Linked DNA regions of Homo sapiens: regions 1, 2, 4, 5, 6 and 7 are each linked to region 3. The links come from fine-mapping of genetic effects on gene expression. A gene starts in region 3. Each other region holds a variant in brackets. All regions are shown on one strand. Distances are from middle to middle.

Region 1 (4,063 bases), 130 kb after region 3:
CGCAATCTCGGCTCACTGCAAGCTCCGCTTCCCGGGTTCACGCCATTCTCCTGCCTCAGCCTCCCGAGTAGCTGGGACTACAGGCGCCCGCCACCGCGCCCGGCTAATTTTTTGTATTTTTAGTAGAGACGGGGTTTCACCTTGTTAGCCAGGATGGTCTCGATCTCCTGACCTCGTGATCCACCCGCCTCGGCCTCCCAAAGTGCTGGGATTACAGGCGTGAGCCACTGCGCCCGGCCTAGCCTTTTTTTTTAAGCACATACTGATGTATTATTTTGCCTTACAGAAATAGGATAAACTATAATTTTTCTGCAGCTTTAAAAATTTGAGGAGAATGGCTTGAACCCGGGAGGTGGAGGTTGCTTTGAGCAGAGATCATACCACTGCACTCTAGCCTGGGCGACAGAGCAAGACTCCGTCTCAAAAAAAAAAAAAAATTGATATATCCTGGTATTTATGTAGATACTCCATACACAAGCTCATGGATATTGATCAAGGGTGTGGGTGTATATGTGTATGTTGCACATTGTATTTTGTCTCATTGTTTCAGTGAGATAAATCTGGGAAGTGGAATTGCTTGGTCAAGAGTATGTATTGGTCAGGCACAGTAGCTCACGCCTGTCACCCTGGAACTTTGGGAGGCCGAGGTGGGCGGATCACTTGAGGTTGGAGACCAGCCTGGCCAACATGGTGAAACCTCGTCTTTATTTGAAAATACAAACATTAAAAACACACACAAACACACAAAAAAAGAAAATTCAAAAATTAGGTGGTGGTGACACGCCTGGAATCCCAGCTACTTGGGAGGCTGAGGCAAGGAGAATCGCTTGAACGCAGGAGGTGGAGGTTACAGTGAGATGAGATCACACCACTGCATTCCAGCCTGGGCAACAGAGCGAGACTCTGTCTCAGAAAGAAAAAAGGAGCATGAGGCTGGGTATGGTGGTATGCATGTAATCCCAGCACTTTGGGAGGCCAAGGCTGGTGGATTGCCTGAAGTCAGGAGTTTGAGACCAGCCTGGCCAACCTAGTGAAAGCCCATCTCTACTAACAGTACAAAAATTAGCCAGGCATGGTGGTGCACGCCTATAGTCCCAGTTACTTGGGAGGCTGAGGCAGGGGAATTGCTGGAACTCAGGAGGCGGAGATTGCAGTGAGCTGAGATCGTGCCATTGCACTTCAGCCTGGGTGACAGAGCAAGACTCCATCTCAAAAAAAGGAGTATGTATTTACAAAAATTAGCCAGGTGTGGTGGCACACACCTGTAGTCCCAGCTACTTGGGAAGCTGAGGCGGGAGGATGGCCTGAGCCTGGGAGGTCAAGGCTGCAGTGAGCCAAGATGGCACCCACTGCACTCCAGACTGGGTGACAGAGCAAGACCCTGTCTCAAAAAAAAAAAGAGTATGTATTAATATTTCAAAATTGTCGGTCAGGGCCGGGCACGGTGGCTCATGCCTGTAATCCCAGCACTTTGGGAGGCTGAGGCAGGCGGATCACGAGGTCAGGAGATCGAGACCATCCTGGCTAACATGGTGAAACCATGTCTCTACTAAAAATACAAAAAAATAAGCCGGGTGTGGTGGTGGGCACCTATAGTCCCAGCCACTCGGGAGGCTGAGGCAGGAGAATGGCATGAACCTGGGAGACGGAGCTTGCAGCGAGCCAAGATTGCGTCACTACACCAGCCTGGGCGACAGAGCGAGACTCTGTCTCAAAAAAA[T/AT]AAATAAATAATTGTTGGTCGGGCGCGGTGGCTCACGGCCTGTAATCCCAGCACTTTGGGAGGCCAAGGCGGGTGGATCACGAGGTCAGGAGTTCAAGACCAGCCTGACCAACATGGTGAAACCCTGCCTCTACTAAAAATACAAAAGTTAGTCAGTCGTGGTGGTGGGGGCATGTAATCCCAGCTACTTGGGAGGCTGAGGCAGGAGAATGGCTTGAATCCAGGAGACAGAGGTTGTGGTGAGCCAAGATCGTGCCACTGCATTCCAGCCTGGGTGACAAAGCGAGACTCCATCTCAAAAAAAAAAAAAAAAAAGAAAAGATTGTCAAGGCCAGGTGTGGTGGCTCACCCCTGTAATCCCAGCACTTGGAAAGGCTGAGATGGGGAGGATCACGTGAGTCCAGGAGTTTGAGATCAGCTTGGGCAACATGGTGAGTCCTGGTCACCACACACACACACACACAAAAATTAGCCAGGCATGGTGGTGTGCACCTGTAGTCCCAGCTACTTGGGAGGCTAAGGCAGGAGGATGGCTTGAGCCAAGGAGTTTGAGGCTGAAGTGAACCATGATTGCTCCACTGCACTTCAGCCTGGGCAATAGAGCGAGACTCTGTCTCAAATAATAAAAGTAAATAGGCTGGGCGCAGTGGCTCACGCCTGTAATCCCAGCACTTTGGGAGGGCAAAGTGGGCGGATCACCTGAGGTCGGGAGTTCAAGACCATCCTGGGCAACATGGCGAAATCCTGTCTCTATTAAAAATAGAAAAATCAGCTGGTCATGGTTACAGGCACCTGTAATCCCAGCTACTTGGGAGGCTGAGGCAGGAGAATCGCTTGAACCCAGGAGGTGGAGGTTGCAGTGAGCGGAGATCACGCCACTGCACTCCAGCCTGAGGGATAGAGCAAGACTCTGTCTCCAAAAAATAAATAAAAATAAATAAAAGTTGTCAATAGATTACCAAAGAACTCACCAAAAAGATTGAGCTGAGCTCATTAATTCCTTGCTGTAGTGTGGGTTCTGTGGTGATTTTATTATTATAATGTAACACCAAGCCACATTGTCAGTTAGTAACTTCTCAAAATGTTGAGTCAGTGGACACCGGGTAGGGTAAAAAGTCTTTGTGCCTGGTGCGGTGGCTCATACCTGTAATCCCAGCACTTTGGGAGGCCAAGGCAGGCAGATCTGTTGAGCTTAGGAGTTTGAGACCAGCCTGGGCAGCATAGGGAGACCCCATCTCTACAAAAAAAAATGAGTAGGCTATGGTGGCTGGTGCCTGTAGTCCCCACTAAGGAGGCTGAGGTGAGAGGATCCCTTGAGCCCAGGAGGCGGAGGTTGCAGTAAACCAAGATCACGCCACTGCCCTCCAGCCTTTGCTACAGAGTGAGACCCTTTCTGAAAAATAAATAAATAAATAAAAGTGTGTTTACTCAAAGTATTGCAGATTGGATTTTATAAATATTTTTAAAATTTGCCAATTAGTATATGAAAACTCTGATTGTTTTAATTTGCATTTCTTTTCATATGTTTTAAATAGAGTAACATTTAAAATTTCTTTTGAAGGCTGGGTGCAGTGGCTCATGCCTGTAATCCCAGCACTTTGGGAGGCTGAGGTGGGAGTTTGAGACCAGCCTGGCCAACATGGCGAAACCCCATCTCTACTAAAAATGCAAAAGTTAGCCAGGCTTGGTGGCGCGCACCTGTAGTCCCAGCTACTTGGGAGGTCGAGGCAGGAGAATTGCTTGATCCTAGGAGGCGGAGGTTGCAGTGACCTGAGATCGTGACACTGCAGTCCAGCCTGGGCGACAGAGCTAGATGCTGTCTCAAAAAATAAATAAATAAATAAATAAATAAATAAATAAATAAATTTTGAGTGATTATTACATGTCGGGCTCTATCCAGAGCACTTAATGTATGTTATATATGTTGTCTAATTTAATCCTCAGTGGATCTTATAAGGTAGATATTCTCATTTTACAGATGAGAAAACTGGAGCTTGTTTCACAACTTTGCCCACAACTGTAGCTGTAAGTGTGAGGGGCCTGCCTCTAGAGACCATGAAGATTCAACACTAAGCTATACTGGACTGTTGTCATGTATTTTATTTTCTGTGAATTTTGGGAAGAAGAGAGTTAAATGGAAGAAAGAAAAAAAATCTTGCAAATACCTTTAGGATAGTAGTTTTTTTGGATACAGTAGACATTGTTTGAAATGAATGATTAAAGCTGTACTTACCTTTCTTAAAATTCACTGCTTGGGATGGGCTGGTAACAGTTTCGAGGTTACTCTCATTAGGCTTCAGTGTTAAGTACACTATACCCCATTTTCTTGGGAAGTGAACAGCA
Region 2 (4,063 bases), 29 kb before region 3:
GCTTTTCTGGTGGTGAGGTGGGGAGCTGAGGGAGGCAGGGGCACAGAAGGGCCTAGGCCTTGCTACTGGCGCACCAGCCAGCCACTCACTGAATGATCACTGGCTGAGACATGGGCGTCAGGTCCTTCCCTCTGGATCCACCAATACAACCCCTGCAAAACAGGTCTCTGAGCCCCCCAGCAGCCTCACCCCCTGCCCGGGACTGGGGGATTCCTGAAACCTCCAGGAATAGGTGAGAGGGGAAACTGAGTAAAGGGAGCAGACCACATGAAGGGTCCTGAAAGGACACAGGAGACAAAATAAGCCTGTATCTCCTCAGTCCATTTCAAACCTCACTGTCCTCCTGCAAAGGACAGGGTCGCATCCCACCAGGGATGCACTCATGCCCAGGTGCCTGCTCCACCATCAACCATACCTGCCCCATTTTGGAATAAAATCATGTCCAAAACTGGAAATCAGGAAAGTCCCTCATTTTATCCCAACAGCCCACGGGCAAGGAAGGAAAAGATGTCCCTCCCCAAATCTCACCCACCCCAAGGCCCTGCCCGAGTGGGAGCGAGGGGACGGAGGATACAGCTTGATGGCTCCAGAACGGGTGCCGATGGCCAGGATGCGCAGGGACGGGCTGTAGCCGAGGGCGCTGGGCTGGTGCGGGAAGCCATGCTCCACCGTCTGCAACGAGAAGCACGTGGGGTGGGCCTGCAGACCTGTCCCCTTCGCGCCACCATGGCTGCTGCAGCTGCAGCACCAGACGACCCAGCAGGAAGCAGGGCTTCGGTACCTTTCCGGTTCCTCCCAGACACCTGAGTGTTGGAGCCTAACCCATATTTACCAGGCCCCACCCCCTGTCCCTTTGTGACTCTGCCCTTGGCCTCATGGCCACCCCTGCGAGCTGATCTTCCCCGACACCATACCAGCCTCTCAATGCTTTCCAGGAACTGACTCGGTGCCTCCACCACGTGCACCCTGGGTGACGGACCCAGCCCTCCTCAGTGGCATGGGGGCCTTATGGGTGTGGGGTGGGGAAAGTAGGGGGAGTTTGGAACAATGGAGACACCGGTCTCTCGGGAGAAAATCTTGGTTGCACCGCAGCTCCGGGCTCACCCAGGGGCCTAGAGTACCGCGGAGGCCCTGCCCTGCTCTGGGCTCTTCCAGGTCCCTCCAGGCCCCAGTCAGCTGGGTCTCACAGACTCTTACTGTCACCAAATTCCAACCATCTTCCCAGAAAGGGAATTCCTGGAGTGTCGTTGCACATACGTGTTTTTTTCATTTATTACAGAATACACACACACACTGTGAAAAACCTGGGAGGTATAAAGATGTTTAAGAACAAAAACTGAGGCTGAGGCAGGAGAATGGTGCGAACCCGGCAGGCAGAGCAGCCTGGGCGACAGAGCGAGACTCCGTCTCAAAAAAAAAAAAAAAAAGAACAAAAATTACCCAAACTCCCACAACCAGAAGTAACCTTGCTAGAACCTAAGTGTACATCCTTCGAGTCTTCTGCACTTGTGAATGTTTGCAGGTCTATTTTTTTTTTTTTTGAGATGGAATCTCGCTCTGTTGCCCAGGCTGGAGTGCAGTGGTGCGATCTCGGCTCACTGCAAGCTCCGCCTCCCGGGTTCATGCCATTCTCCTGCCTCAGCCTTCCGAGTAGCTGGTACTACAGGTGCCCACCACCATGCCTGGCTAATTTTTTGTATTTTTAGTAGAGACAGGTTTCACCGTGTCTCTATCTCCTGACCTCATGATCTGTCCACCTCAGCCTCCCAAAGTGCTAGGATTACAAGCGTGAGCCACCCGCACCCAGCCAAAAATTTTTTTTTTTTTTTGAGACGGAGTCTTGCGCTGTCGCCCAGGCTGGAGTGCAGTGGTGTGATCTCAGCTCACTATAAGCTCCGCCTCCCAGGTTCACGCCATTCTCCTGCCTAAGCCTCCCAAGTAGCTGGGACTACAGGCGCCCGCCACCACGCCCGGCTAATTTTTTGTATTTTTAGTAGAGACGGGGTTTCACTGTGTTAGCCAGGATGGTCTCGATCCGCCCATCTTGGCCTCCCAAAGTGCTGGGATTACAGGCATGACAAAAATTTTTAATTTTTCTTTTTTGAGGGTCTCACTCTGTTGCCCAGGCTGGGTGCTACGGCATGATTTCGGTTCACTGTAGCCTTGGCCTCCCAGGCTCAAGTGATCCTTCCACCTCAGCCTCCCAAGTAGCTGGGACTACAGGCATGCACCACCACACCTGCCACACCCGGCTACTTTTTAATTTTTGGTAGAGACAGGTACTCGTCATGTTGTCCAGCCTGGTCTTAACCTTCTAGACTCAAGCGATCCTCCTGCCTCGGCCTCCCAAAGC[G/A]CTGGGATTACAGGCGTGAGTCACTGCAAGCTGCCTAAAATGGCTTTTTTTTTTTTTTTTTTGAGACGGAGTTTTGCTCTTGTCACCCAGCCTGGAGTGCAATGGTGCGATCTTGGCTCGCTGCAAACTCTGCCTCCCAGGTTCAAGTGATTCTCCTGCCTCAGTCTCCCCAGGAGCTAGGATTACAGGCACCCACCACCATGCCCAGCTAATTTTTGTATTTTCAGTAGAGATGGGCTTTCACCATGTTGGCCAGGCTGGTCTTGAACTCTTGACCTCAAGTGATCTGCCCGCCTTGGCCTCTCAAAGTGTTGGGATTACAGGTGTGAGCCATCATACCCGGCCTAAAATGACTTTTAAAACATCTAAAGAATATTCTTTACCTGTAGATATCCTAATTCACCAGAGGTTTATTGTTGAGTATTTACTTTGTTGCTAGAGGGTTTGCAATCCAACAACCATGTCGATGGCATTCTTGGACTCCTATCTTTGTCTGCACCACTTGAGTATTTCCTGGGGCAGATGTCCCAGGGATAGAATTGTGGGTTAAGAAAGGTATGAACATAAACCCACTACAAATTTAGAGTGATAAACCATCTTCAGGAAGGTTTTTAGTTCAGTTTCTTAATCAGTTACCCCAATCTGACCCCCGCCTCCCACCCCGGGGGATAGTGACCCTGCAGAGCTAGGTGAGAACAGCACAAAGCGATGCTATGTCAACTGATTGCTTTAAAGACTTAAAAAACAACCACAGAGACTCTGACTTGCAGAAAAAGGTCCCAACAATGAGGCAGCCTCCTTAGGCCCTGGGCTTTCCTACTTTGCAGCCCTGCCAGGCCTCAAAGCAGCAGAAAAGGAGAAGTCCCTGATGAGATCTAGCAATGATAGCTTAGCAAACCCAATTGCTACCTGCCTCCCCCATCAGTCAGTCTAGTCCAATGGCTCTCACAAGGAATCCCATGCTGGGGTCAGGCAGGGAGGAGAGCTCCAACAAGTGCCTATTTTGGGGGATGCCTGGAGACAAAAAGGTCGGGGGAGACGGGGGGTGCCTCAGGCCTGGCCTTTGCTAGGAACAGGGCCTGCCCTGCAAATGGTCATACCTAAATGGGATAGCCAGGGGGACAGATAGGGCCCAGCAGCGGCCCCCAGGCCAGCCCAGGTCCCTGTTCAGCTATGCGAAAAATGCAGAGCCTGGAGAAGCCCTGGATAGAGATAGCTGAGTGTCTGGAATGTAAACATTTCCCAGGAAAAGGGGAGTAGACAGTGGGATAGGATGTGCAGGACAAGCTCCCCCAGGGGCCCCACCAGACCTCAGCCAGCCCCAGGTTGCTGGGGCCTCAGGAAGTCAGCAGCCGGAGCCGTCTCCCAGGACAGCAGCACTTTCCCAGCAGCAGAGGCAGCTCAGGGAACAGCCTCTGGAATTTGGAGGACTCTGGTGGAAATGCCCTACAGGAGCCCAATGGCCTGGCCAGGAGCAGGCCCCATGCTCCGAGCTGCCCAGAACGGTAGCCATGAGCCCCATGGGGCCACCAAGCACTTGCAGTATGGCTCATGTCACCAATGAGGATTAAGTCAGTTCTTGGAAACCCTTCAAGTATGTCTGGAACAACTCGGGTTCTAGAAGAACAGGGGCTGGACTCAGGCAGGCCACGCTTCGAATTCCCTTTTTCCACTGTAAATCATCCAAATTCTAAATACAGATCTAGTACT
Region 3 (4,063 bases):
CTGCAGTGAGCCTCCATCTCCCAGTGATTGCACCACTGCACTCCAGCCTGGGTGACAGAGCAAGACTCTGCCTCAAAAAAAGAAAAAAAAAAAGTTACTAACAGCTGGGCACAGTGGCTTACACCTGTAATCCCAACGCTTTGGGAGGCTGAAGTGTGAGGGTCACTTGAGTCCAGGAGTTTGAGACCAGCCTGGGCAACATATGGTGAGATCCCATCTCTACAAATTAAAAAACATATTATTAAAGAAAAAAAGAATTTGGTCAACTTAGTTTAAAAAAAAGAAAAAAAAAGAGAAAAAAGTTACTTTTTTCTATTTTATTTCTTATTTATGAATGTAGTGTCATTTTAATATAATTAAAAGCATATTAATCTGACACCAAAGGGGAAACTCCCTTGCCTCAAGGAAGAATGGGGATGCCAAATGACCCTGGACCCCGGAAACCCTGTCCAGGAGCCCCCACAAAGATGGGCCCAGTCTAACTTCAGAGGAAAGGAGTGAACTCTGATTAGAAGCTTAAGAGCTGAGTTTGAGTTCTGTCTGCCACAGCTAGCACTGTGGGAAGATCGCCTAAGAAAACTAAACCCCAAATCCCAGTTCATAAAATAAAGCTGAGACATCTCTCGCACAGTTCTCCTTGTGCCTCTGCTCACACAGACCCAGACAGTTTTCCTCAAATGCCACTTTTTTTTTTTTTTTTTGAGACAGGGTCTCACTCTGTCCCCAGGCTGGAGTGTGGTGGCGCCATCATGACTCACTGCAACCTCCACCTCCTGGGCTCAGGCAATCCTCCCACCTCAGGCTCCTGAGTAGCTGGGACTACAGGTGCACGCCACCATGCCTGGCTAACTTTTTTTATTATTTGCAGAGACGAGGTCTCACTATGTTGCCCAGGCTGGTCTCAAACTCCTGGGCTCAGGCGATCCTCCTGCCTTGGCTTCCCAAAGTGCTGGGATTACAGCTGTGAGCCAATGCACCCAGCCTCAACTGCCACTTCTGACCTTGGCTTCCCCCGGGCTGGGCCACAGCTCTTCTGTGGCAGCTCTGCTCTTCCTACCAGCGTTTCCTTGTCACCTTGACACACCCATTCCCTCCCTGCCCGCTCCCTGCTCAGAATCCTCTCTGTAGCCCCTTCAAGAGAACTCAAGGTTCTCTTGAACTACAAACTCCAGCAGGGGGTCCCTGGAGCCCAGGTTAAGGCTGCCGGCAGTCGCATACGGATCCCCAGGGGAAGGGGCGCCCTCCTCACTCAAAGCTCACCTGTTCAGGTGAGAGCCTCAAAGCGCCACTCTACAGCTCCCCTGGTTAGGTCAGTTCTCCCCACAGCCAAGGCCCAGCGTGTCCACCAATCGTCCAGCCGGAACAAACTAAGACACACTTTCTTTGGCAAGATAGAATTTTCCACTTCTCGCCAAATCCCACAGCGCAAACCCCGCCCGTCAGCATGGAGGGCAGACTGGGTCTCCGCACTGTCATGTGAAGGTGTCCAAAGCCGCCCCAGCTGGAGAAAGGCCGGAGACCGAAGTCCCTCCCGCGGGCTTCCTGCGTCCGGGGATTAGGAGGCACAAAGGGCCGGCAGGGACACAGCCCAGATGGCAGGGGCAGGGGCTAAGCCGCCGGGGCACCGCGCTCCGGCCGCCGCCCGTGGGGAGGGGGTCACCGCAGACGCGCGTCGCCAACCCCGCTGGCCTGGCGCCTGCACGTGGGCCCGGGGACTCCGTCTCTGCCCGCGGTGCCCCCCGCACCCAGCCGGCCGGGGCACCTGTTCTCCTGCTCTCCTAAGCCAACATTATTGTGCAAACCCAAGCCCAAGTTTCAGTCATCGCGCAGATCAGGCAGAGAAGTTTCCCGCAGAACTTTCTACAGGTGTCTCTCTTCCAGGCCAGCACAGCGACGCGGACAGGGGCGAGGCGCGCGGACCTGGGCGCAGCCCTCCCGCCCTGGCCCGACAGCCCAGGGGTCCTGGGCCTCCCTGGCCTCCCCGCCCCAGGTGGAAGCCCCGAGGGGGCGGGCCCGGCTGGGCGAGTCCGGCACGCATCTCACCTGGAACCCCGGGCCAGCCCCCGCCCGAGGCCTCGGCGTCCCTCGGCGCCCGCCGCCGGCCCCGCTCGCTCCGCCGCGCCTGCCCACGGGCTGCTGGGCGGCCGTCTCCTTCCTGCTCACCTCCGGCGCGGCGAGCCTGGGGCGGAGCCGCGCTATTTACATAAAGGGCGAGCCTGCCGGGGCCCAGCGCCCCGCCCCCGGCCCGCCCCCCAGCTCGGCGCCGCAGGGGCGGGGGCACCCTCGGGGGTGGGGGCTGCGCTCCTGCCAATCCGCGGCCCCGGGAAGCGCGGGGCGGGGCCTCGCGAACGGCCTCGGGGTTCCGCAGGCCCGCCCCGGCCTCACCTGCGCGCACCTGGACGCAGAACGGCGCGCCGCGCCCAGTGTCCCGCCGCCTCCCGCAAGCGGAAATAGTTCCCGGAACGCCTGCGGTCCCGGGCCGCCTCCCAGACTCCAGGGGAGCCGTCCCTCCAACTCCCGGGAGCTGCCGAGGGAGGGGCGGATCCGGGCCAGCTCCTCTGCCAGAGCCCAGCCCAGAGAGGGTGACCGGGGGACGCAGGGCCGGGTTTCCAGCCCCACGAGAGGGATGGTGTAGGGACCGGGGCGTCGCGGCGAGACGCCTTTCCTCGGGGGGGGGTGCGGGGGGGCGCCCACCTCCTCCGTGTCGGCCGGAGGGTCTGCAACAGCGGGTGGAATTTTTAGCACAAGCGAGGGAGGAGGTTGGAGCGACGAGAGGCGGGAGCGGAAAGGGCGCGGAGGCCGGGGCTGCAGCGCGCTCCACCGCCCAGCTGCAGGTGGCGCCTCTCGCCACCCGCACCCCGCTGCGCCCAGGGAAGGGCCGATGGCGCGCCGTCCTCCCTCCTCCCTTCGGGAAGCCTGCGACGTCCCATCCCCTCCGACGCAGGCCCGGGAAAGGCTCAAAAGGTTCGAGGTCGCGTTCCTGCTATCCCGCGGGCTTCTCTCACTCTTAGATCCCGCACCAGAGGAAGCGGATCTCCTTGAGTGGGCAAAGCAGGGGTGAGGGGCTGGGGGCAGTTCCACTGACAACGGGACGGGGGCGAGAGGGGTTTACCCAGTACATACAGAAACAGCAGAAAAGAAATCTATTTTTAATGGCTTTGGCTTTATAGCACGAAGCAGGCACCCTCTCGTTAAAGGCACACAGTCCTCTCTTCTGCCCCACCTCCTGGGTCCTTAAAATCGAGTCCTGAGTTCCAGAGGGGTCACTGCAAGGCAGCAGGGAAGGGAGAGGGTCACAGTTTCACTCTGTGAGTATCAGACACCCAGGGCCAAGGCCCAGACTGGCCTCTGAAGCTACAGGTTAGAGTCTGGGTACAGGAGGCAGCCGAGATGGTCCCTGAGAACAGACAGTCCCGGTCCCCCGGAGCAAGCTCCATCCTCTGCAGAGCTGTGAGGTCAGTGCCCCACATCCTGGGGCAACGTGAAGTCCCTGAAGCTGTAGAAGGAGATGTCACCATGATCCACCAGGGCAAAGATCAGAGGGACATCCCCACTCTGGTAAGACAACCGCTTGAGGCTGCAGAGGTCTGGGACAGGCTCATCAAATCTGCAGGGACAAAGGGTTAGAGTGAGACCCAGCCATAGCCCACTCCTAAGCTCTAGGGCTCCCAGAGAAGAGATTCTACGGAAGGAGTTGGGGTGCAAGAATTCTGACCCATGAGTTCTGTCTCCAAAACACAGGGCTCTGATGAAGAGCGCCCCAGAGCACTGGTTGGGGAGGTGCTAGGAAGAGCAAGGTGCTCACCACTCTTAGCCTGTAAATCCCCACAATCCACATCCCTTCTGCTGGGTGAGTCCTAGACTAAAATGGCATTGGAGAAAGACTACCCTAAAATGCCAGCAACGAGGAGCTCAGAGTAGGGCAGCACAAACTGGCTGTGTGGCCTTGTGTAGGTCACTTAGCCTCTCTGGACCTCCTGTTCCTCTCAGAGATTGGCACGCTGGCCAGGGGAGTACAGAGGAGTCCCACTTGGTTCACAGGAGAACTGGCAGCAGCTGGGGG
Region 4 (4,059 bases), 46 kb before region 3:
TCCTTACTGAGGTCAGGATGTGGAAGCCCAGGGCCCAGGGCTGGAAGGAATGCCGTCTCTATTCCCAGCCCAAACACTACCTGCTCACTCGGGACCCTTCCCTCCCGTCCAGCCCCAGGTCTGGGCCGGGTGTGGCCCAGGTGTGCATGAGCCCAGGAGGCCTGTCTTACCCTCGCCATCACTCTGAGTCCCTGAGTTCCTGTGGGGGAAGAGACAGTGAGGACCAGGGCCCCCGGGCTCCCTGCCCGGCTCTGAGAGCCCTGGTCCCATGAAGAACAAGTCAATGGCGCAGCCTGTCCTGAGCCGGAGAGCCTGGGAGGTAAACTGAGTCCTGCCCTGGACTGCCAGCTTGCACAGGGGCAAGGGGCACGCAAAGAGGCAAGGAGAGCCGGAGCCTGGGAGGGTGGGCTGAGCTCGTGGGGAGGTGCCTCCAGCCAGGCAGCAGTGGGAGCCTCGGTATCTCAGAGAGGGCAGGGAGGGGCGGGAGGGGCGGGAGAGGCCTCTGGCCCTTTCACTCACCTGGCTCGGCTCGGGGCCTTCTTGGGGCCCGCACCGTTACCAGGGCGGTGGTTCTTGGTTTCTGCTGAATCCACCAGACACCGGGGCTCCACCAGCCACTTGGTGGAGAGAGAGAAGCGCTCAAACTCCGAGGGTGAGATCAGGTAGAAGCCTGGGGAGTGGGGGCAATGCTAGCGGCCTGGCCTGGCGGCTGCCAAGGCTGCCTCCCCACCTGGGGGAGTAGGGGCTAGTGCTCCCTCGCAGTTCTCCGCTTAAGGCCCATCCAGTCTGGCCGTGGCCACAACACCCCTGGCCACCCTTCCCGTCCGTGCAGTGCCCGGGGCCCCGACACCCACCCAGCCCGGCTCAAACACCTTGGCCATATTTGGTGAAGACGCAGGAGGCGATGCCACTGACGTCCTCCCGGCGGATGCAGCTGTAGCGCACCTGGGGCTTGAGCAGGGGCAGCGAGACCACCTGGATGTCGCCCAGGTTGGTAAGGACTGCCAGGTGGTGCTCCCCGTAGTCCTCGGCTCGACGACTGCCGAAGTGGGCCACGCTGACCCGCCGCACTCTTGAGCCCTCCAGGGCCGTCAGCTTCAACTTCAGCTTGGCACTCACCTTGGGCAGCGTGAACACCTGGGGGCGTGGGGTGGTTGTTCATGCCCATGGCCAAACCAGTTCTCCTGCCCTGTGCTGCTGCTGCTGGGCCCTCCCCTCCCCACATGCCTCCCGGTGTCCTGACAAACCCTTGGCTCTCAGATGCACAGACATGGCCTGGGAGGATGCCGAGGTCACCGACTTCCCTATCTGGATTTTTTTTTTTTTCCTCCGAGATGGAGTCTTGCTCTGTCGCCCAGGCTGGAGTACAGTGGTGTGATCTCGGCTCACTGCAACCTCCGCCTCAGGCAATTCTTCTGCCTCAGCCTCCCGAGTAGAGCTGGGATTACAGGCGTCCACCACCATGCTGGTTTTTTTTTTTTTTTTTGAGACGGAATCTCGCTCTGTCGCCCAGGCTGGAGGGCAGTGGCACAATCTCGGCTCACTGCAAGCTCCGCCTCCTGGGTTCACGCCATTCTCCTGCCTCAGCCTCCTGAGTAGCTGGGACTACAGGTGCCCGCCACCACGCCTAACTAATTTTTTTGCATTTGTTTGTAGAGACGGGGTTTCACCGTGTTAGCCAGGATGGTCTCGATCTCCTGACCTTGTGATCTGCCCGCCTCGGCCTCCCAAAGTGCTGGGATTACAGGCATGAGCCACCGCGCCTGGCCCATGCCGGGCTATTTTTTTTT[G/TG]TATTTTTAGTAGTCAGGGTTTCACCATATTGGCCAGGCTGATCTCGAACTCCTGCCCTTGTGATCTGGCCTCCCAAAGTGCTGGCATTACAGGCATGAGTCACCGCGCCTGGCCCCCTGTCCTGCCTCAGTGTCCTCACACGAGACTCCCCCCTCACTTATTTCCTGTACTTCTGCAGCCCCTCAGACACCAACTGCAAACAAGACTGAGTCCCAGCCATCATTTTTGCCCAAGGTCCGAGCCTCCTGGATGTCCCGGGGAGTCCCAGGGAGACCCGCCGCTGCCCGTGTGGCACCTTGAACTGCTCCTCTGATACGACGAGCAGCTGGTGGCTTCCCTGCATGTCAGGGCTCTTCGACAGATCATGGGCCACTTCGAGGGGCTCGGGAAGGGGTACGCTGTGTCCGTCGAGCACCAGGATGCCCACCACCGGCGCCCGGTGCATCAGCTGGATCTCCTTGGCTAGGGGGAGGAGGTGGGTGTTGGGGCTGGTGAGGGGGTGGCAGGGCTGGAGCCACTCCCTGGACCCAGCCCAGGCAGCCCGAGCACCCTCTGCTCTCCCTGCCCAGCACTCACCCTGCTCTGCCCGCACAGGCTCATCCATTCTCCGCTCGGCGGGAGGCACACGCAGGGAGAAGGCATAGATGGTGCCCCCATTGGTGCCAGCCCACAGCGAGGGGCAGTGCCGGGAGCCTGCCGAGAAGCCATGTTTGGGTGTCTGACCCTTAGCGTGGGAGTCGGGTGGAGCTGGGCAACCAGGGTTTACTCCCAGGTTTTCCCTCCTGGGAGAGGCTGGAAGGCTCTCTGACAACCACACAGGCCCCAACATAGAAGACCCCAATCCCAGGTCAGCTCAGCCCTTGCTGTGATACAGCAGGGGAGAACCAGCCAGGGAGAGACACGTCATCTGGAGACCAGCAGGCTCTGCTGTCCCCGATCGTCACAGCTGCTCTAGGAGGAAGCTGTCACTTCCTCATTTACAGAGAAGCAAGCTGAGGCCCTGAAAGGCTAAGTGATGGGTCTGAGGCCATGCTTCTAAAGGGTGCTACGGCCTGGATATAAAGCCAAGGGAAGCTGACTCAGAGGCTGAGGCAGGGGAGGGGAGTAAGCAGGCAGGGGCTGCAGTCTGCCCCTGCTCACAAGGGGAAACCTCTTAGCTCCTACCAGCCAGGCAGGCAGCAGCCCCCGGCATGCCCCCAGGTCAGGGGGTGTCTGCTGCCCACTACCCCCTGCCCCCCAACCCCAGGCTGGCCACTCACTGTCCTTCAGGTAGGTGTCAGCAAAGTACAGGGTCCGGACGAAGCCTGTGAAGGAGTCCTCTGCCGAGCGAGCCTCGATCTTGCGCTGCACAGGCGCCAGCTCCATGTTCTGGAGGCCTGGCCGCTCAGCCTTGGCACTCCCCTCCTGTGCCTGCAAGGGGTGGGCCAGCCTAAGGGTCAGCTCTGGACTCCCCTCCCCAGGAACAGTGCTTCGCTCAGTGCTGATCCTTGCATCGGAAGGCAGGCCACAGCCATGCCAGCCACCTGCCAGGCCTGCGTCTAGAGGGACCCTTGTCCAAGAGGGAGGTGCCCTTGGGGGAGCCTGCCTGGGCCCCCAGCATGTTGTAGAGAGAAAAAGGAAATCACTAACGTTTACTGGGGATTACTTCTAGGATAAGCATTACAGTTACTGCCTTTCTGCTCAGGAAGCTGAGGCAGAGAGAAGCAGCGTGACCTGTCTGAGGTCACACAATGCGACCTGGACCCTGAATCTTGTTTGTAGCCTAGCAAGCCTGGGGAGCAGGGGCCGTGTGGCCCCCCTGCTGGCTGCTCTGAGCCGAACCTGGGTGCGTGGCCGGCCGCAGCCTCACCTCAGGCCTCACCTCTCCTGGGGGGCCAGCCGGGTGCCGCTTCCGGCTGGACACCCGGCTCCGACGCATCCGGCGGAATGACTGACGCAAGGACTTCTTGAGGGACTTGACGCGGGAGAGTGGGCCCTCCAAGGCCAGCTGGTCACTGGGGTGCAGTGTGCACCTTGGGGGGATGGCAGGCTGTCAGTGCTGCTAGGTCCTGGGAGTCCTCGCGGGCCCCACTCCCAGCCCCGGGACCCAGCCGCCCCTGCTCACTTAACAAAGACCTGCCGCCGCTGCTGGTGGTCAAAGAGGCCAAAGCCATGGCTGGTGCCGAAGGCCACGAGCCGCCACTCAGAGTGCAGGGCCAAGGAGGTGACCACAGCCGGGGGCTGACACTGCACCAACACGAAGGGCTGAAAGCCAGGCTCAAAGCGCAC
Region 5 (4,063 bases), 40 kb before region 3:
TGGTGTTGAACTCCTGGGCTCAAGTGATCTTCCCACCTTGGCCTCCCAAAATGCTGGGATTACAGGCATGAGCCACTGTGCCCAGTCTTTTTTTTCTCTTTTTTTTTTGAGATGGAGTCTTGCTCTGTCACCCAGGCTGGAGTGTAGTGGTGCGATCTCAGCTCACTGCAACCTCCGCCTCCCGGGTTCAAGCGATTCTCCTGCCTCAGCTTCCCAAGTAGCTGGGATTACAGGCACTCACCACCACGCCTGGCTAATTTTTGTTTTTCTTTTTTATTTTTTGAGACGGAGTTTCGCTCTTGTTGCCCAGGCTGGAGTGCAATGGCATGATCTCGGCTCACTGCAACCTCTGCCTCCCGGGTTCAAGAGATTCTCCTGCCTCAGCCTCTCGAGTAGCTGGGATTACAGGCACATACCACCAATGCCTGGCTAATTTTTTATTTTTAGTAGAGACAGGGTTTCACCATGTTGGCCAGGCTAGTCTCGAACCCCTAACCTCAGGTGATCTGCCATCCTTGGCCTCCCAAAGTGCTAGGATTACAGCTGAGCCACTGCCCCTGGCTGACGCTGCCTCTTTGAAGTGCTTGTCTTCCCTGCTACTCTGGGGTCTGCTGCCCGCTGGCTGCTCCCAGGTGTTCTTTGCCAGATCCCCACCAAACTTCATGCCTCCAAGGCTTGAGGGTGCCCGGGCTCAGCTGTCCCATGGCTTCTCTTCTGTCTTCCTTACCACCTGGGCAGCCTCATCAGGGCCCCTGGTTTCACATCTCTTTTTTTCTTTAAACCTCAAAATCATTGAGCAGCCTTCACACATCTCTGCGTGGATGACTCCAAATGGACACCTTCCCGATCTCTCCTCTGAACTCCAGACCCATAAGCCCCAGTTGTCTACTCAGCATCTCCCTTATGGGTCTGGAGATCAGAGGAGACATTAAGTCCTCAGACTTGATCCCCGCCCAGCTGAGCTTGCTGCACCCTCTTGCCACTACCTTCTCCAGGATTCCTGGTGCTCCCAGCAAACCCTCACGTCATCCTTGACTGATCTCTCCTCCCCTCGTTTACCTCTCCCTAGACAAGGGGCCAAGAAATTACAGCCTGAGGACCAAATCTGGCCTCCTGCCTATTCCTGTCAATATGGCTGTCCTGGAACACGGATACGCCCCTTGTGTTGTCCATGGCTACATGTGCTCTGCAATGGCATTAGGCTGAGTAGCTGTGGGGAAGAAAGCCACCCAGCCCTTTATAGCAACAGTCTGTGAGCCCTGACCTGGCCCCTGAGCCAATGCTGAATGTTAGAAAAGACAGCGTAACCCCAGCCACCTCCTGCCAGTCCCATGGCCTGCACCGCAGCCCAAGCTGAGGTCACCTCTCCCTCGACTCTCACTGGGCTCCCGTCTTTGCTCCACTCCGTGTCCCCCACATGGCAGCCAGACAGATCCTTCTGGAGCAGAGGCTAGATCATGGCACCCCTGCTCAGGGCCCTCATCTCCCTCAAACCCCAAGTCCTTACCGTGCCTCCACGGCTCTATACGATCTGGCGCTGGCCACATCTGGACCAGCACGGGGGCCATTCTGCCCTCTCTTCGCCCCTACCTCATTGGAGCAAGCCAAGAGCCCTCCCAGCTCAGTCTGCACCCCAGGTCCCTACAGGGCAAGCCTTCCATCAGACTGCTTCCGTGTCTGCGCAAATACGTCCCCTTATCAGGGAGGCCTTGCCAACCCTTGTCTAAACCAGCACTGCTGTCCTCTGCCTGGCTTTTTTCTTACCTCTGACATTATCTGGCAACCTACTCACTCTGTCCACATACTCAGATCTAAGTTCCATGGGAACAGGGGCCTCATCTGTTTCTAGAACAGGGCCTGGCATATAGCAGTTGCTCATTAAACAGGAGAGCCTACCAAGGACAGCTGGGTCACAACCCGGCACAGCAGAACCATTACGTGAGAGCTTCAGGGTGCCCACATATCATCTGAGGGAAGCACCGCTCATCAGGCACCCACCTCCTGGCCTGCGGGACTGCGGGGAGTTGGGGACACAGAGGGACAATTGCAGGAAGGTGGCCTGTCCTAGAAAGCCCCAGCAGTCTCGAATTTGTAGCTCAGCAAGTTTCTTCCCTCCCTTCCTGACCTTTCCGCTGGGAATCAGGTAACTCAGTTAGCCCGGGGAGTGTGGCCACCATAGCCCAAGAGGCCCCCGCTCTGTGCCAACATGGCCCAAATGTTGTGGAAAGAGCAGAGCTGGGCCCTGCTCTCAGCATCCAGGGTGTGAGGAGGGAGGAGAGGCTGAGAAAGAAAGAAAAGCAGGTTTGGGGTTCCCCTGAACAGGGTAGATAGAGGCCG[T/C]GAGTACACAGACCAGGTGTCCTGAACAGCCCCGCCCCCTCACCTTTCGGCCTCAGGCCCTTTCAGGCCAGCATCATTAGGAGAGGGCCCTCCCTCCTGGAGAGCTCCTGCAGGGCTCCTCTCCAGGTTTCAACATCAGCCCTTTCTGGTCTTGCCTGTCACACAATTTACGAGGCTGACTCAGGGCTCTGCCGGTCCTGCTGGAGCTCCAGGAGGCTGCACAGCCACCTTCTGCCCTGCCCAGAAGGCGGGCTTTGCCATCTCTAAGCCAGGACCCTCTTGCCTCAGCGGGGTGGGTGTTAAATCCAACAGTACAGATCAGCCCCCTGTGGGCTAAGTCCCATTACAGTCTGGAAAGGGCAGAGAGCCCGGGGCAGACAGGAGGTGTGGCTGGGCTGGGTCTCTAGCTGGGGAGGGTGGCAGGGAGGCAGAGAAAGGAGCTGTAGGGCTTGATGACACTGCACCTTGGGGTGCAGTGAGGCTAAGGGACTCAGGACAGTGGTAGGCTTAGGAACATCTGTGCAGAGCCCTTTTTTTTTTTTTTTTTGAGACACAGTCTGGCTATGTCACCCAGGCTGAGTACAGTAGCATGATCCTGGTTCGCTGCAACCTCCACCTCCCAGGCTCAAGTGATCCTCCCACCTCAGCCTCCTGAGTAGCTAGGACTACAGGTACGTGCCACAACACCTGGCTAATTTTTTTATTTTTTGTAGAGACAAGGGTCTCCCTACGTTGTCCAGGCTGGACTTGAACTCCTGGGTTCAAGCGATCCTACCACCTTGGCCTCCCACAGCACTGGGGTTACAGGCAGGAGCCACTGCACCTGGCCCTGTCTTTACTGATGGTCCTGCCCCATGCCTCCCACACCTAACCCTGGGCACCCACTCCCGAAGCTCTCCTACTGGCTGCAGGGTCTGCCTCTGTGAGGACAGTGAAGCCGATGACACGGGAGGTGAAGTCGAAGGCCGTCTGCTGGCCATCGTGGATCACTGAGATGCAGTGGCGGTCCCCGTAGCTGGCCCGTGGCATGCCACCCTGGAAGATGGTGAAGGGCAACCTGGCAGGCACAGAGGAGCGGCAGTGGGCTGGGGCTCCTGGCACAGCCTCAACAGCCACAGGCCGGCAATCAAAGTCACCACTCAGTCAAGGTCCCCAGGAGCAGGGGAGACTGGACCCCATCTCCTTCCAACTGCTACAGCCCAGGAGGACTTGGAGGTAAGGTGAGGGCATCCAGGCTGGGGGCTCTGAGTCTCAGCAGCCACTCCTGCCTCATGCTGGGTGCCCCCACCAATTCTGTTTGAACATCACCCAGAGTGATTTTGTCTGAAGAAACAGGGCTGCCAACTAAAGGAGTTTAAGACCTGCTGCTCAGTACCGTCTCTCTGGGAAGGTGGAAGAAAGGAGCAAGAATGAACTTGGCAGGAATTGGGCCGCTGAGAGACGTGAATAGCGTCTACCCTGTCTCCCCTCCCTGGTGTCCAAGACCCCAACACGGGACCTGAGAGTGTTCACTGGCACCAACTTCCCAGGCAGAGGCCTAAGTGACCTTTCTAGCCCTCCAGGAAGGCTCTGGAGAGGAAAGAGGACCAGCATGGATACCTACCCCTGCCTAGTGGTCAGCCAGAGGATTCTGGTAATCGCTTTGCAAGGAAAGGGACCTGAAAGGAAAGGAATCGGCTTGAACGGATCCTCAAACTCTCAGACAAGTGTCAGTCCCCACAGGCAC
Region 6 (4,063 bases), 200 kb after region 3:
GGCTGCTGGGAGCAGTGAATATTTTTAATTTTTTTTCAGAAGCTACCCTTGTCACGATTTTATTAATAACGCAACATAGTGGACCCCTGAGAGCCCCTGCAGACCACTGTCCTCCCGTTCTCACCCACCCCTCATTCACAGGCCCTGCTCCTAGCACAGAAGCAGTTGCTGGCTTGCCTTACAAGTGTGTCAGGGGAGCTGAGGCTTTCCACGCTCAGACTAGAATGCCCTTGGACATTGTCCACTTGCTTTCACAGCAGCTGGTGGCGGAGACTTTCAGGTGGCTTGTCGCATCTTGAGTGGGAGGGGCCTGTTGGATCACAGCACATCCTCCCCAGGTCCCATATAAGCCACATAATTTGTGTACTTCTGTTTCCTTCAGTCGTCCTCAAAAGAAACTGTAGGTCAAGGGTTGGCTAAACTTTTTCTGTGAAGAGCCAGATAGCAAGTAATTTCGACTTTGTGGGCTGCATACAATCCTGTCAAATATTCCTTGTAAAAATTTTCTTTTAACAATCGAGTAGAAATTTAAAAAACAGTCTTAGGTTGTGGGCAGATTTGGGCAGAAGGCCATTATTGTTTGCTGGCTCCTTCATTAGATCCAAACACAACATCGACTTCAGTTCCCTTTTGTTTTCATATTTTCAGATTGAAAGGGAATTCAACAGAACATCATACTACACTTCTTATATGACATGCCTGTGGCTCGAAATTCTTATTTTTCTTCAGTGTTTCGGGTGACACAGGCATTTAAATCTGACTGTTGAGGAAAGATAGGAAAGGCTACCTTCCTTGGAAAGTTGTAGTTACTGCCAGGCTGACTGGGACAGTCACTCCCTTGCCTTGACCTTTTGTCCCCACTATGAAGAACTTTAGAAGAATTGATGGAGAAGCACCCAGCACAGGCTCAGCTGTGTTGTTATTTGCAGACTCTGCCCAAAGGGTGGGCAGTGCTCAGCCACTCTGAGCTCTGAAAAGGCAACTAGCAACTTAAAAACCCTTATTTATTCAGGTCTACCATATTGCTAACAAAGACCATGCTTGTGCCTATGTAGGTGTTTGGCCTTGCAGACGTAGTTGCTGTTGTATAGGGCTGCTCTGTGGCTGGATGTTCATGAGTATAGGGTCAGGGTCAGTACCAGGCCTTCTCCTCCACATCCTACCACCTCCTGTTTTTTTGTTTGTTTGTTTGTTTGTTTGTGGGGGTGGGGAGCAGGGGTTATGGAGGAAGAGGGAAGCATAAAATGTAGCACCATGTCAGCTAATGCAGCATTCAAGTTAACAAATTAGACTACAAAATGATTGTTGGCATTAGTGCTGCAGCATGAGTTGTATATGCTTGAGGGGTGGATCCAAATATGTGCTTTTCACACTAAATGCATATGGATGGGAGCCTACGGGATGTAGTAAAGAATTATATTGGAAAATTAGCCTTCTCCCCTCACCCCCTTAGCTCTCGCCCTTGCTATTTCTGTTGTATAAGCCCACCTTTTTTTTTTTTGTTTTTTGTTTGTTGTTGTTCTTGTTGTTTTTATGAGACGGAATCCTGCTCTGTTGCCCAGGCTGGAGTGCAGTGGTGCTATCTCAGCTCACTGCAACCTCCGCCTGCTGGGTTCAAGCGATTCTTGTGCCTCAGCCTGCCGAGTAGCTGGGACTACAGGCGCGTGCCTCCACTCCCGTCGAATTGTTGTATTTTTAGTAGAGATGGGGTTTCACTGTGTTGGCCAAGCTGATCTCGAGCTCTTGGCCTAAAGTGCTGGGATTACAGGTGTAAGCCACCGCACCCTGCCAAAGCCCATCTTTTGTTTGTTTGTTTGTTTGTTTG[TTTGA/A]GATGGAGTCTCGCTCTGTCGCCAGGCTAGAGTGCTGTGGCGCGATCTCGGCTCACTGCAACCCCCAACTCCCTGGTTCAAGGGATTCTCCTGCCTCCACCTCCTGAGTAGCTGGGATTACAGGCATGTGCCACCATGCCTGGCTAATTTTTGTATTTTTAGTAGAGATGGGGTTTCACTGTGTTGGTCAGGATGGTCTCAATCTCCTGACCTCCTGATCCGCCCGCCTCGGCCTCCCAAAGTGCTGGGATTACAGGTGTGAGCCACCACACCCGGCCCAAAGCCCATCTTTTTAAAGACTTTCAAAACATTTGCCTGTTAGAGCTTGCAGCAAGCCAAGATCACGCCACTGCACTCCAGCCTATTCAACAAAGCAAGACTCTGTCTCAAAAAATAAAAAATAAAAAAAATTCACCCGTAAGCATGTAGTCACATGTACATATCATCATTTTAAAAAGTCAAATTTATAAATGATATAAAATGCTATAGAAATGTAGAATGGTGGTATTTCAGTGTTTTAGTAGTGACAGCTATTCACAGGGTCTTGCTCTGTCATCCAGGTTGGGCTCAAGTTATCCTCCCACCTTAGTCTCCTAAGTTGCTGCGTCTACAGCTGTGCACCACTATGCCTGGCTAATTTTTTATTTTTCGTAGAGACAGGGTCTCACTGTGTTGCCCGGGCTGGTCTTGATCTACTGGGCTTAAGCAATCCTCCCACCTTAGCCTCCCAAAGTGCTGGAATTAACAGGCGTGAGCAACTGCACCTGGTGCCAGATTTTTTATTTCTTGATCTGGGTGCTTATAACAGAGTTGTGGTTTTTTTGGTTTTTGGTTTTAATTCCAGTTAGAGTACTTTTTAAACATTATAATTTGTACTTCACTACAATTTATTTTTTTTAATTGAAAATAAAATTGCGTTAATTTTAAGCTGGGGGCAAGAAAACACAGCAGCCATGTCTATGTGACACCAGACAGAAAGGTCTGGAAACCTAAGTGTTAGAACCGCCAACACGTGCTGCCTCTGGGGAGTTTGAGGGAAGCATCTTACTTTTTATGTTTGCTTCATGTACATCTAGGCTATTTCAGTTTATATTCATTATTTTATACCTACAAATGGGAAAAAACCTCCCTAGTGGAGAGATCTTGGGGGCCTAGGAGGAAAGAGAGCCTTGCTGATTGAGAATCTTCACCCTCACCATTGCTATTGGAAGTGGCAGTGGTGGGGAGTGTGGGGCAGTGTGGGGAGAGCCAGCCGAGGCCATGTGTGGATTTTCACTGCTGTACCCAGTCAGATGCATGCTGCATACACTTATATTAGAAACCCAGGGCCCCCCGATATGAGAAGGTTTAAATACCGTTGATTGGGGCCCCCCGATTGAGAAGGTCTCAATACCGTTAAGTGTCCTTATTTATTTATTTATTTATTTATTTATTTATTTTTTGAAAGCGAGTCTCGCTTTGTCGCCCAGGCTAGAGTGCAGTGGCGCGATCTCGGCTCACTGCAAGCTCCGCCTCCCAGGTTCACTCCATTCTCCTGCCTCAGCCTCCTGAGTAACTGGGACTACAGGCACCTGCCACCACGCCTGGCTAATTTTTTGTATTTTTAGTAAAGACAGGGTTTCACCGTGTTAGCCAGGTTGGTCTCGATCTCCTGACTTTGTGACCCGCCCGCCTCGGCCTCCCAAAGTGCTGGGATTACAGGCGTGAGCCACCACACCCGGCCTATTTAATTTTTTTGAGATGGAGTTTCACTCTTGTTGCCCAGGCTGGAGTGCAATGGCACGATCTCGGCTCACCGCAACCTCTGCCTCCCGGAGATTCAAGCGATTCTCCTGCCTCAGCCTCCCGAGTAGCTGGGATTACAGGCATGCGCCACCGCGCCTTGCTAATTTTGTATTTTTAGTAGAGATGGAGTTTCTCCATGTTGGCCAGGCTGGTCTCGAACTCCTGACCTCAGATGATCCGCCCACCTCGGCCTCCCAAAGTGCTGCGATTACAGGCATTGAGCCACCGCACCCAGCCTCCTTTTTTATTTTATTTATTTATATATTTTTTTGAGACAGAGTCTCACTCTTTCGCCCAGGCTGGAGTGCGGTGGCACAGTCTCGGCTCACTACAACCTCTGCCTCCCAGGTTCAAGTGATTCTCCTGCCTCAGCCTCCCGAGTAGCTGGGATTACAGGTGCCCACCACTGTGCCCATCTAATTTTTGTATTTTTGGTAGAGAGTGGGTTT
Region 7 (4,051 bases), 52 kb before region 3:
ACAAAAATTAGCTAGGCATGGTGGCATGCACCTGTAGTCCCAGCTACTCAGAAGGCTGAGGCAGGAGAATCGCTTGAACCCGGGAGACGTAGGTGGCAGGGAGCCAAAATCACTGCCACTGCACTCCAGCCTGGGCGACAGAGCGAGACTGTCTAAAAAAAAAAACCCAGTAGCTTAAGGACACATAACCACTAAATATGGACTTGAGGACCAAGCCCAGGCCCTCTGGCCTTTAATACCCACTTTTCTGCTGAACCCACACTGTGGAGCTCCGCAGCGCTTCTGCTGGAATCAGCTTTGGAACCAGACAGCCTTGGTCCCCCATCCCAGCTGCAGTGCTCCACCCTCCTGGCTCTATGACCTTGAACAACCTTCAGGGAACAGCTTGGCTAATCTTGACATGCAGGGAGACAGGCCACACCCCCGAGCCTGGCTCTCCCCTCTGCTTCCCACTTTCCCACTGACTTCCTTTGCCTGCTTCGCTCACCAGTGTATAGTGAGCTCCTCCCTGGGGCTGTGTGCCGCGCCCTCTCTGGACTTCCTTCCACACTCCCTCCCTCTGGAGCCATCTCCTTCTCTCCTGGCCTCACCCACCATCCACAGTAACTTTCACCTCCTAGGGTTGGGTGTTTACTAGGAATCAGGTGCTGTGTGATTTTACAGGCTCTCATTTAATCCTTTACAACCCTCTGAGGTAAGTCCTATTATTATCCTTCACTTTACAGATAAGTAAACCAAGGTATGGGAGTGAGGTCATGTACCCAAGGTCACACAGCCAGTCACGTGAAAGCCAGTGTACAGGGTTGGATCTGCCTGGCCTCAAATGCTAAATGAACACCAGGTCTCCACCACTTTGAATGCCCAAGACCCTCACATCTCAATCTGCAGACTGGCAGGGTGTGGCAGCTCATGCCTATGATCCCAGCACTTTGGGAGGCTGAGGCAGGAGTATCCTTTGAGACCAGGAGTTTGAGACCAGCCTGGGGCAATATAGGGAGTCCCTGTCTCTACAAAAAATTTAAAAATAAAAAAGTAGGACAGGCGCGGTGGCTCACGCCTGTAATCCCAGCACTTTGGGAGGCCGAGGCAGGCGGATCACAAGGTCAGGAGTTTGAGTCCAGCTTGGCCAACATGGTGAAACCCTGTCTCTACTAAAAATACAAAAATGAGCTGGGCGTGGTGGCTAACGCCTGTAATCCTAGCTACTCGGGAGGCTGAGGCAGGAGAATTGCTTGAACCTAGGAGGCGGTGATTGCAGTGTGCCGAGATCATGCCACTGCACTCTGGCCTGGGCGACAGAATGAGGCTGTCTTGAAAAAAAATAATAATTAGCTGAGCATGGTGGCGCCCACCTGTGGTCCCAGCTACAAGTTTGCTCCAACCCAAGAGTTCAGGCTACAGTGAGCTATGATCACACCACTGCACTCCAGCCTGGGCAACAGAGCAAGACTCTGTCTCTAAAATAAATCAATTTCCGTGGCCAGGCTCAGTGGCTTATGACTGTAATCCTAGCACTTTGGATGACTGAGGCTGGAGGATTGCTTGAGCCTCGGAGGTCAAGGTTGCAGTGAGCCATGATCTCATGCCACTGTACTCCAGTCTAGGTGACAGAGTGACACCCTGTCTCTAAAAAACAAATAAAATAAATCTCCTGACCACAAATCCAGTTGCCTGCTGTATACCTCCCTGGCCCTTGGAGGCAACAGGTAGCCCTCACGCTCACTCATCTCCTCCCATCTGGCAGCCATCCTTGTCAACCCAACCCCTCAATGCCTCTATTTCCCTACCACCGTCGCCTTGCCCTGGATGGCTGTGGGGATCCCAGCTTCCTCCAGTTCATTTTTTTTTTTTTTTTGAGACGGAGTCTTGCTCTGTCCCCAGGCTGGAATGGAGTGGCATGATCTCGGCTCACTGCAGCCTCCGCCTCCCGGATTCAAGAGATTCTCCTGCCTCAGCCTCCCGAGTGGCTGGAATTACAGGCACACGCCACCACACCTAGCTAATTTTTGTATTTTTAGTAGAGACGGGGTTTCACCATGTTGTCCAGGCTAGTCTTGATCTCCTGACCTTGTGATCCGCCTGTCTCGGCCTCCCAAAGTGCTGGGATTACAGGCATGAGCCACCGCTCCCGGCCCCTCCAGTTCACTTTCTAGAGAGGAAGATGCCACGTCCTTCCATCTTGCACACCCATCAATACAAATTGTTGTTCATCTCACACTCCCAGTGGGAATATTTTTCTTTTTTTTTTTTTTTTTTTGAGACAGAGTCTCACTCTGTCGCCCAGGCTGGAGTGGGGTGGCATGATCTCGGCTCACTGCAAGCTCTGCCTCCTGGGTTCACCCCACTGTCCTGCCTCAGCCTCCTGAGTAGCTGGGACTACAGGCGCCCGCCACTATGCCTGGCTAATTTTTTGTATTTTTAGTAGAGATGGGGTTTCACCATGTTAGCCAGGATGGTCTCGATCTCCTGACTTCGTGATCCGCCCGCCTTGGCCTCCCAAAGTGCTG[C/G]GATTACAGGCGTGAGCCACCGTGCCCGGCCGAGAATGTTTCCTTAAACTGAAATATGCACACCGACATTAGCTAATACTTCAAAGCACAGCATACTTACAGCAAAGCTCAAAGTTCAGCACTAATCAGCAAGGAAATAAGTTCATGTTCGGAGTCTTCCTGATATTTTCAGGGCTGTGTGTTTTCGACTTCTTGTTCAATTTCATCAGCAAGACCTGTGCTGTGGCCACCAGGCTCCTCTGTGCCACAGAAGTGCAGGTTCTGCCGTTTTTTTCTGATTCACTGGTACTTGCATCATCACCATTATCTTTTTTTTTTTTGAGATGGAGTCCCGTTCTGTTGCCCGGTCTGGAGTGCAGTGGTGCGATCTTGGCTCACTGCAACCTCTGCCTCCCAGGTTTGTGATTCTCCCACCTCAGCCTCCTGAGTAGCTGGGGTTACAGATGCCCGCCACCACGCCCGGCTAATTTTTGTATTTTTAGAAGAAACAGGGTTTGACCATGTTGGCCAGGCTGGTCTCGAACTCCTGACCTCCAGTGATCTGTCTGCCTTGGCCTCCCAAAGTGCTGGGACTACAGGCGCGCGCCACCACGCCCAGCTAATTTTTGCATTTTTAGTAGAGACAGGGTTTCACCATGTTGACCAGGCTCGTTTTGAACTCCTGACTTCAAGTAATCTGCCCCACCTCAGCCTCCCAAAGTGTTGGGATTACAGGCGTGAGCCACTGCGCCCAGCCACCTTTATGGCATATGTTCTTTATGGCAGTATGGGAAGGGACTGATACAGGTGTCTCACCAGGTATCCCCCACCCCTGTGGCTGGTCTCTGCCAGGCATCATCCCTTCCCTGCTTCTTCTAGCATGGTGTTCCTCTCCCTTTGGGGAACTGCTCCCCTACATTCCTCATAGTTCTCGAGGTGCTCATCTCAGAAGTCTTTCTGCACCCTCCCCTGGGGAAACAAGGGACGGTCAAGTGGCCATCTCGAGGTGGACATGGCCAGATGGAACACCTGTACCCAGCTCCTCTGGATGGGCCTTTCCTCGCTCACGCAGAGCAGGCGCCTGTCACACCTGGCCCTCACTGGGCCTCCCTAGTCTGGCCTCACTTTCGGCCCTGCCTGCCAGCCACCTTCCGCTCTCCACTGCCTCCCACGGCAAGCGAGTTCCTGGAGTGGCGGTGAGCCCTCTTGTCCTCTGTCTGGAACAATCTGCTTGCTTACCACACTCTCTGGCAATTCCTGGTTCTCTCTCAGGTCACCCCCCAGGTGCATTTCTCACCAGTGTCAACTGTGGCAGGAACCACAGTTGTCTCAGACACCGGAGAACCCCACGCACTGGCCATACAGTAGGTGCTCAACGAAGACGAGTCAATAAAGATCCAGCCCATGTCCAATCTAAATAACCCAGCCCCTCCCCTGGGGAAGGCCTTTCTCCTTGGGTACCAGCCCCGCTTCAGCAGCACCCCACAGTCCTCCCTGGTGTCTGGAGGAAGCCATCAGGTCTGAGATATTGTGGGTGTCCTTCTTCTGACAGTAGGGAAAGGCCA

Direction of the effects. Positions count from the first base shown, and alleles are read on the strand shown. Sizes are in standard deviations (SD) of each study's normalised expression. Not every link is listed here.
For the expression in tibial artery of the gene that starts at base 2,172 in region 3, A is the low allele of the variant in region 2 and G is the other (small effect, 0.40 SD a copy in GTEx).
As copies of G replace TG in region 4, the expression in monocytes after LPS of the gene that starts at base 2,172 in region 3 goes up (large effect, 0.93 SD a copy in Quach 2016).
For the expression in lymphoblastoid cells of the gene that starts at base 2,172 in region 3, C is the high allele of the variant in region 7 and G is the other (moderate effect, 0.51 SD a copy in GENCORD).

What was found. PIP is the estimated chance that this variant, and not a neighbour inherited with it, causes the effect.
Region 1: its variant is the best candidate, but not a certain one, in a credible set for the expression of LLGL2 in monocytes (BLUEPRINT, PIP 0.54).
Region 2: its variant is the best candidate, but not a certain one, in a credible set for the expression of LLGL2 in tibial artery (GTEx, PIP 0.62).
Region 4: its variant is the best candidate, but not a certain one, in a credible set for the expression of LLGL2 in monocytes after LPS (Quach 2016, PIP 0.74).
Region 5: its variant is the best candidate, but not a certain one, in a credible set for the expression of LLGL2 in whole blood (TOPMed, PIP 0.89).
Region 6: its variant is the best candidate, but not a certain one, in a credible set for the expression of LLGL2 in whole blood (INTERVAL, PIP 0.80).
Region 7: its variant is the best candidate, but not a certain one, in a credible set for the expression of LLGL2 in lymphoblastoid cells (GENCORD, PIP 0.63).

The regions. Positions count from the first base shown.
Region 1 is chr17:75,397,340-75,401,402 of GRCh38, reverse strand. All of the region lies in intron 1 of GRB2 (growth factor receptor bound protein 2), which reads left to right. Among named protein-coding and RNA genes, the nearest start is that of GRB2, 6.3 kb to the left of the region's middle. The variant T/AT (reference allele first, on the strand shown) is at 1,721.
Region 2 is chr17:75,552,655-75,556,717 of GRCh38, reverse strand. It overlaps LLGL2 (LLGL scribble cell polarity complex component 2), which reads right to left. Exons shown (of 26, transcript NM_001031803.2): 3 at 575-672. Among named protein-coding and RNA genes, the nearest start is that of LLGL2, 29 kb to the right of the region's middle. RefSeq lists an enhancer at 3,709-4,063. The variant G/A (reference allele first, on the strand shown) is at 2,354.
Region 3 is chr17:75,523,806-75,527,868 of GRCh38, reverse strand. LLGL2 (LLGL scribble cell polarity complex component 2) reads right to left here and starts at 2,172. Exons shown (of 26, transcript NM_001031803.2): 1 at 2,044-2,172. TSEN54 (tRNA splicing endonuclease subunit 54) reads right to left here. Exons shown (of 11, transcript NM_207346.3): 11 at 3,134-3,607. The coding sequence ends at 3,457. RefSeq lists silencers at 2,466-2,650, 1,967-2,686, 2,707-2,806.
Region 4 is chr17:75,570,092-75,574,150 of GRCh38, reverse strand. It overlaps LLGL2 (LLGL scribble cell polarity complex component 2), which reads right to left. Exons shown (of 26, transcript NM_001031803.2): 15 at 3,896-4,059; 16 at 3,653-3,803; 17 at 3,051-3,201; 18 at 2,368-2,484; 19 at 2,087-2,253; 20 at 873-1,137; 21 at 520-670; 22 at 171-199. Among named protein-coding and RNA genes, the nearest start is that of MYO15B, 16 kb to the left of the region's middle. RefSeq lists enhancers at 2,612-2,781, 2,892-3,021. The variant G/TG (reference allele first, on the strand shown) is at 1,791.
Region 5 is chr17:75,563,684-75,567,746 of GRCh38, reverse strand. It overlaps LLGL2 (LLGL scribble cell polarity complex component 2), which reads right to left. Exons shown (of 26, transcript NM_001031803.2): 9 at 3,941-3,995; 10 at 3,240-3,394. Among named protein-coding and RNA genes, the nearest start is that of MYO15B, 22 kb to the left of the region's middle. RefSeq lists an enhancer at 709-858. The variant T/C (reference allele first, on the strand shown) is at 2,338.
Region 6 is chr17:75,328,146-75,332,208 of GRCh38, reverse strand. The region is part of intron 3 of GRB2 (growth factor receptor bound protein 2); the gene reads left to right. Among named protein-coding and RNA genes, the nearest start is that of SLC25A19, 41 kb to the right of the region's middle. The variant TTTGA/A (reference allele first, on the strand shown) is at 1,826.
Region 7 is chr17:75,575,469-75,579,519 of GRCh38, reverse strand. No RefSeq gene overlaps it. Among named protein-coding and RNA genes, the nearest start is that of MYO15B, 10 kb to the left of the region's middle. The variant C/G (reference allele first, on the strand shown) is at 2,508.